Homo sapiens: one gene and its partner. The protein of the gene in region 1 interacts with the protein of each later gene in a biochemical or structural test. Each region holds a gene or a part of one and is shown on either strand. Other genes may lie near its edges. The genes, in order: TAOK3 and ATF7.

Evidence for each region.
Region 2: the proteins of TAOK3 (region 1) and ATF7 form a complex in vitro, tested with the Homo sapiens proteins (one large-scale study listed by BioGRID).

Annotation. Positions count from the first base shown.
Region 1 is NC_000012.12:118,198,087-118,201,908, reverse strand, and holds part of TAOK3 (serine/threonine-protein kinase TAO3), read left to right. Parts: intron 1-445; coding exon 446-613; intron 614-2,651; coding exon 2,652-2,858; coding exon of another isoform or gene 2,859-2,885; intron 2,886-3,822. UniProt on the Homo sapiens protein: Serine/threonine-protein kinase that acts as a regulator of the p38/MAPK14 stress-activated MAPK cascade and of the MAPK8/JNK cascade.
Region 2 is NC_000012.12:53,616,283-53,620,104, reverse strand, and holds part of ATF7 (cyclic AMP-dependent transcription factor ATF-7), read left to right. Parts: intron 1-3,822. UniProt on the Homo sapiens protein: Stress-responsive chromatin regulator that plays a role in various biological processes including innate immunological memory, adipocyte differentiation or telomerase regulation.

The DNA of each region.
Region 1 (3,822 bases):
TAGAGATCCAGTGTACAGCATGAGGACTATAGTTGATAATATTGTATTATATCTGGGAAATTTGCTAAGACTAAAGATTTTCGGTACTTTGCCACCAAGAAGTAACTATATGAGATAATAGATATGTTAATTTGCTTAACTGTAGAAATCATTTCACTATATATATGTGTATCAAAACATGTTGCCATATACTTTAAATATGTACAATTTTTAAAAAGAATTCTCACATCCGCAAAATGGGGCTTAAGGAAGAAGAAAAAAGCATAGCTATCTCTTTATGAGATTTACAAAATATGGAAGGACACATGACATGAAAATCATATTTTGTTATTTCTGTAATATCCATAGAACTATTTTATGATTCTCTATTTCCTTTTATATCTGTACCTTGCACCTAAGGACATTTCTTCATTATCAGTTTATTTTTTCCTCCTCCCTCAATCAGCATGACTTTGTTCGACGAGACCGGCCACTACGTGTCCTCATTGACCTCATACAGAGGACAAAAGATGCAGTTCGTGAGCTAGATAACCTACAGTACCGAAAAATGAAAAAAATACTTTTCCAAGAGACACGGAATGGACCCTTGAATGAGTCACAGGAGGATGAGGAAGTAGGTTCAATTTATTTTAGCAGGCACTTATAGAATGCCCACTATGTGAAAAAGTTCTAGACTGGGCACTATGAAAAACTTTTGAAGATAAAAATTAATTGATGCTGTCCGCCTTAAGAAACATGAAGGGTTGTACAAGAGACATTCATAAAATAACACTTATATAAGGCAAAATATGAAAAGTGCTACAGAGGTGTAACCCCATTGCAGGGGTCCATCATGGGGAGAAAATAAGTCTGCTGGTGGGATTAGTGAAGGTTTCCTGGAGGACATGATGTGGGTAGTTTCTGACAAATGGGCATAGGGTGTTCTAGACTCAGAAAGGTGTTGTGCTTTAGGAAGATTATCCTAGCAACAGAGTGTAACATGGATTTGAATGGGCAACATCCTGGCTAATAGTCCATGCAAGAGGTAATAAGGTCAGTGTCGATGCAAATGGGGAAAAGGGAGCACTTTAGAGAAACATCGTAGAGGTAGATTTCATAATCCATGGCTTCTCATTGACAGTGACAGATAAGGAGGAGTTTAAGGTGACTCTGAGCATTGGAGCCTGGGTGGCTAGGAGTATGTCAATACCAAGAACAGAGAAAAAGAACCAGGGAGAAAGAGTAGATTTAGGATGATTTCAGTTTCGTGCCTTTTGAGTTTAAGGTCCTGGCATTATAAACTCTTGCCAGTATACAGATAGAAGTTTTCAGTTAGAGAATCCTTGATGACCTTAGTAAAAGCAGTTTTACAGGACTAGGTAGAATGAATAGTAGATTACTGGAGTTGTATAATTCATGGGAGTTGATAAGAGGGAGACAGGAAAAAATAATTATGTTAAGATTCAGAAATTGGGTTAAGAAGGAAAAGTAAGAGTGGGCAGCATGTAGAGAGATCCATAAATATAAGGCAGGCTTCTTCATCTTTAAATGCAGTAGAGATGGAGCCAGGGCAGAGTCAGAGGCACCGAAGATAGAAGAAAGGGATATAGTTAAAGAGGCAGGATTTCAGAACGTAGACATAACAAGAACAGGAGTATTTTAGCTTTTTAACAGAAAATAAAATAAACATAAAAGTATTTTATCAATAATTTTAAAAATGAAGCTCGGAAAGTTGCATTGAACTATAAAATTTCTTGATTGCATATATAGAAATGATCCCCTTTAATTGGGAAAATAAGTCTGTTAAAAATAATGTATTATCTTCCATTTTATATTACCCAGTAATTTTTTATATTGCCATGGCTAAGTAACAGTTTATTAAAGTTATATGTGTACCATATGGTTTTTTGAGAACAAGGTTTATTTGTAGCTAAATGGATTTAATTTTATTATTCAATCTTATATCAAAAGATATCCCACTGTGATGGATAAATTATATGTTCTGATTATTTTACCACTTTTCAAATAGTAGTCTTTGGGCCAGTAATGATGAATACCAGTATTATTTAACAGATATATATAATAAGATTACAGAGATAAGCATGATAGAATCGCTTGAGGGAGGCAGACTTTAATTACCTGTCCAGGAAAGTAGAATTAATATTTCTGCTTAGATATGAAGTTACTCAATAATGACTTGCAGAGGGAGCATATTGCTTGTCAAATATCTGAAAACTCTTTCCACTCTACTTTTTCAAGTGACCACTGCTGTATTTGAAGATATCCTAGAGCTCACCTGTTTAGTGGCCAGCAGTCTTCCTCTAGCTCCTTGATGTTCCAGAAGGTCCCTTACAAACCTGGCTTGATTTTGCTTACTGAATAGCAACACGATAATATGATAGTGTGTATGACAGGGGAAAGCCCTGGGATGGCAGCATTTGGAGCCTTATGACCCACGTCCAGAATGGCCCCTGGGGAAGGCATAGGAAGCAAATATGAGATGTATGAAAATGGTGGAGGAGTAGTGGAGCCAGTACATAAAAAGTTTGTCTTTGCAGATTGGCAGAAAAGCAACTTGACACTGCAAAATTGAGTGTGCTTGACACTTTTGTCAATGGATTGACTCTTTATCTTCAGTCTTTTTTTCTAACCTCAGTGCCCCATTTTTACAGGACAGTGAACATGGAACCAGCCTGAACAGGGAAATGGACAGCCTGGGCAGCAACCATTCCATTCCAAGCATGTCCGTGAGCACAGGCAGCCAGAGCAGCAGTGTGAACAGCATGCAGGAAGTCATGGACGAGAGCAGTTCCGAACTTGTCATGATGCACGATGACGAAAGCACAATCAATTCCAGCTCCTCCGTCGTGCATAAGAAAGTAGGTTTCTTGGTACCCTCCACAGAGGTGAGCTTTGTCAATCATAGCGAATCCAGTTCAAGTCACTTAGCTTCCAGATGTTTCAGTTACCTTTTTGCAACTGCAGTGTGGTACTAAACCTGGCATGTGACAGTTTTCTTACAGTCAAAAAGTAACAAAGGACTACACAGGCTACATCTGTGCCTATTTCTTCATCTCCCTCTCTCATTACTCTGATGTCCATCATCATCAATAAATAAGTTGAAGAATTTGATAAGTCCTTCTCTAAACCAATAATCTTAATACTGTAGACCTTCAAGTCTTCCTGAGTGTACCTGTTGGTTGTGCCCTTTTAGAAGTATGCTCTTTCAAAAGTATGTTTCTTGGCTGGGCGTGGTGGCTCACATCTGTAATCCCAGCCCTTTGGGAGGCCTAGGCGGGTGGATCACTTGAGGTCAGGAGTTTGAGACCAGCCTGGCCAACATGGCGAAACCCCGTCTTTACTAAAAATACAAAAAATAGCCGGGCCTGGTGACATATGCCTGTAATCCCAGCTACTCGAGAGGCTGAGGCAGGAGAATTGCTTGAACCCAGGAGGCAGAGGTTGTAGTGAGCCGAGATCGCGCCATTGCACTCCAGCCTGGGCAACAGAGTGAGACTCAAAAAAAAAAAAAAAAAAAAAGAAGAAGAAGAAAGAAAGAAACTTGCCTCGGGTAAAAGGAGGACTTACTCTAGCAGGGAGTAAGAAAAGCCTACCTGATGAGGTGACATTTAAGCAGAAATTTCAAAAACAAATAGAAGCTAGCCAGCTGGGGTAAGAGATGGGGATGAGTCAGAAAGCAACAAGTACAAGAGCACTGAGACAGAGAGAGCTTTGTATGTTCAAGGAAAAGGGGAAGGCCATAGAAGCTATGGCTGGTGTGCTATGTGGACAGTGCCTCAGGACCAGAGAGACAGCAAAGGACCCAGATTATCAGGAAGACAT
Region 2 (3,822 bases), about 65 Mb from region 1:
TGGCACAATCATGGCTCATACTGCAGCTTCAGTCTCCCAGGCTCAAGCCATCCTCCTACCTCAGCCTCCTGAGTAGCTGAGACTAAAGGCTCATGCCACCATGCCTGGCTAATTTTGTTTATTTTTTGTAGAGGTCTCATCATGTTTCCCAGGCTGGTCTCGAACTGCTGGGCTCAAACAGTCCTCCTGCCTTAGCCTCCCAAAGTGCTGAGATTACACGCATGAGCTACTGTGCCTGGCCAGATTTTTTGACATTAGATGAAATTCTGTTTCGGAAACTTTTTTTTTTTTCTGAGGCAGGGTCTCCCTCTGTCTCCCAGGCTGGAGTGCAATGGCGCCATCTTGGCTCACTGCAGTCTCTGCCTCCTGGGCTCAAGTGATTATCCTGCCTCCGCCTCCTGAGTAGCTAGGACTACAGATGTGCGCCACCGTGCCCATCTAATTTTTGTATTTTTTGTAGAGACAGAGTTTCCCATGTTGCCTAGGCTGGTCTTGAATTCCTAAGTTCAGGTGATCTGCCTGCTTTGGCCTCCCAAAGTGCTGGAATTACAGGCTGGGCCCCCATGCCCAGCTTGTTTTGGAAACTCTTCTTTTTTTTTTCTTTTTTTTTTTTTTTTTGACACGGAGTCTCGCTCTGTCTCCCAGGATGCAGTGCAGTGGTGTAATCTCAGCTCACTGCAACTTCTGCCTCCTGGGTTCAAGGAGTTCTCCCCCTCAGCCTCCCAAGTAGCTGGGACTGCAGGCACATGCCACCACGCCTGGCTAATTTTTGTATTTTTAGTAGAGACGTGGTTTCACCATGTTGCAGGCTGGTCTCAAACTCCTGGCCTCAGTTGATGCGCCCACCTGGGCCTCCCAAAGTGCTGGGCTTACAGTGTGAGCCACCTGCCCTTGGAAACTCTTTTAGGAAAAAAACTTTATTCCCTGGACATTTCAACTTAGAAATGAAAGAATTAAACTACTCTCTGAAAACAATTTTATGTAGTTTCCCTGTAATGTTGACATCTCCAATTTAGACCTAACTTTTCATTTTCTTCTTTTTTTTTTTTTTTGGAGACAGAGTCTTGCTATGTCAGCCAGGCTGGAGTGCAGTGGTGCAGTCTTGGCTCACTGCAACCTCTGCCTCCCAGGTTCAAGCAATTCTCATGCCTCAGCCTCCCAAGTAGCTGGGACTACAGGTGCCCACCACTGCGCCCGGCTAACTTTTTGTGTTTTAGTAGAGATGGGGTTTCACCATGTTGCTCAGGGTGGTCTCGAACGCCTGAGCTCAGGCAATCCACCTACCTCAGCGTCCCAAAGTGCTGGGATTACAGGCAAGAACCATCGCGTCCGACCCTAACTTTTCATTTTCTGTTTGGAATAAAAACCTATACCAACTATAAACACACACACACACACACAATTGCCATTTATAATTGTAGTTTATTGGCAAGGATGGTCTAAGTTTGCCAGGTCTAAGTGTTGTAGGTGAAGGGTGCTACAAATGAGATACAACTTCAGAAGACATCTCTAGGGACTAAAGACTTTACATTGGCAGGCAGCAACTTTTCCTGCTTGTTAATTTTAGACCTGACAGTTGAATTTATGTTTGAGCAATTTTAGCTGATAAATGCATTTTTTAAGTACCTTCCTCTTTTGGCATTTTAATTTTTACTTTCGTTTTTAAAAAATTGCAAATCGTGAATGAATGTGCATATTAAATTAGCATGCTACTAGGCAGGGAAACAATGCATTTTCTTTTGATACCTTCTCATCCATCTGATAGCATTAGTTATGAATTCTCCTGGAAAGCAGAAGGATGGACTCGATAACCCCTCAAGGTTCTTTTCAGGCCAGAACTTTCATAAATAGAAGTTAAGATCAAGGAACTTACTCTTGAAGAATCAGGAAGAAAAATAGACTGTAAAGAAAATAAAATTGAAATGTTTCTGTCGACCCAGTGGGAATGGATAAACACAAGTAAGGAACATAAATGACGAGAAATAATAACTCCTTTGAGCTAAAAACAAAACAAAAATCAACAACAACAAATATTTTGCATTGGAGTCATTTTATATCTTAAAAATATTTTATCATGACATTTTCTCTTCGACATTTCCCTTGTGGACACTTTGTGTTGAAAGAATGTTGGGTTTTGTTCCTGTTAAATCATAGTATTTTGTTTCCTTCCTTTCTCTTGTTTGTCCTTTTGTTTAAAAACTTTTTTTTTTTTTTTGGTCTTCTGTATAATGGACTGACTGCCTGTTTACAATGAGGCAAGATTCAATTCAATTTTGAAAGTATTTGCTATATCACTTCCTCGGAAATGAAGGATGAGTGTTACAATTCAGGAAAGGTTGTATGAAAAGATAAACTTGTATAAAAAGATAAGCTTTTAAAATTTTGTAGGCAAACATTTAACGAAGGTTCCCAACCAAAGCAAAGGTGAGTTAGTATAGTAGTCTTTTTTTTATTATTATTTAAAAAAATTTTTTTTGAGACATAGTCTTGCTCTGTCACCCAGGCTGGAGTGCAGTGGCACAATCTTGGCTCACTGCAGCCTCCGGCTTCTGATTACAAGCAATTCTTCTGCCTCAGCCTCCCGAGTAGCTGGGATTACAGTTGCCTGCCACTATGCTTGGCTAATTTTTGTATTTTTAGTAGAGACGGGGTTTCAACCATGTTGGCCAGGCTGCTCTCGCACCCGTGACCTCAAATGATCCACCCACCTTGACCTCCCCAAGTGCTGGGATTACAGGTGTGAGCCACTGTGCCTGGCCTAGTATAGTAGTTTTAAGAAGGACATAATACATAAGCATTGGTTGGGCACAGTAGTTCACACCTATAATCCTAGCACTTTGGGAGGCTTGGGCCCAGGAGTTCGAGACCAGCCTGGGCAACATGACAAAACCCTGTCTCTATAAAAAATACAAAAATTAGCTGAGTGTGGTGACATGCGTTTGTAGCGCCAGCTACTTGGGAGGCTGAAGCGGGAGGATTGCTTCAGCTCAGGAAGCAGAGTTTGCAGCCAGCCCAGGTTGCAGCACTGCACTCCAGCCTGGGCAACAAAGTGATACCCTGTCTCAAAGAAAGAAATAATACATAAGTTTACAGTAAAACTCATTACAAACCCTTGACTTCAGGTTGTTAGCTTTTTCTCACCTTTTTTTTTTTTTTTTTGGAGACAGAGTCGTTCTCTGTTGCCTAGGCTGGAGTACAGTGGCATGGTCTCGGCTCACTGCAATCTCCGCCTCCCAGGTTCAAGCAGTTCTCCTGCCTCAGCCTCCTGAGTAGCTGGGATTACAGGCACACGCTGCTACACCTGGCTAATTTTTTAGGTATCTTAGTAGAGATGGGGTTTCACTGTGTTGCCCAGGCTGGTCTCGAACTCCTGAGCTCAGGCAATCCACCCGCCTCAGCCTTCCAAAGTGCTGGGATTACAGGAATGAGCCACCGCACCCGGCCACGCCTTTTCTCATCTTTTGGCAATTTTAATCCTCAGTGTTCCCATACATTTGAAACCAGAATGTGCATAAAGTTTCTTTTTTTCTTTTCAATATTGTATCTCTTCTTAATAAATATCATGAAAGTCTATGAAAGTGTAGGTTGGGTGAGTTGGCCCACACATGTAATCCCAACACTTTGGGAGGCTGAGGTGGGCAGATTGCTTGAGCTTGGAGTTCGAGACCAGCCTGAGCAACACAGGGAGACCCCATCTCTACAAAAAATTTTAAAATTAGCTGGGCTTGGTGGTGCACGCCTTTAGTCCTAGCTACTTGGGAGGCCAACGCGGGAGGATTACTTGAGCCTGGGAGGCGGGGGTTTCAGTGAGCTGACATCACG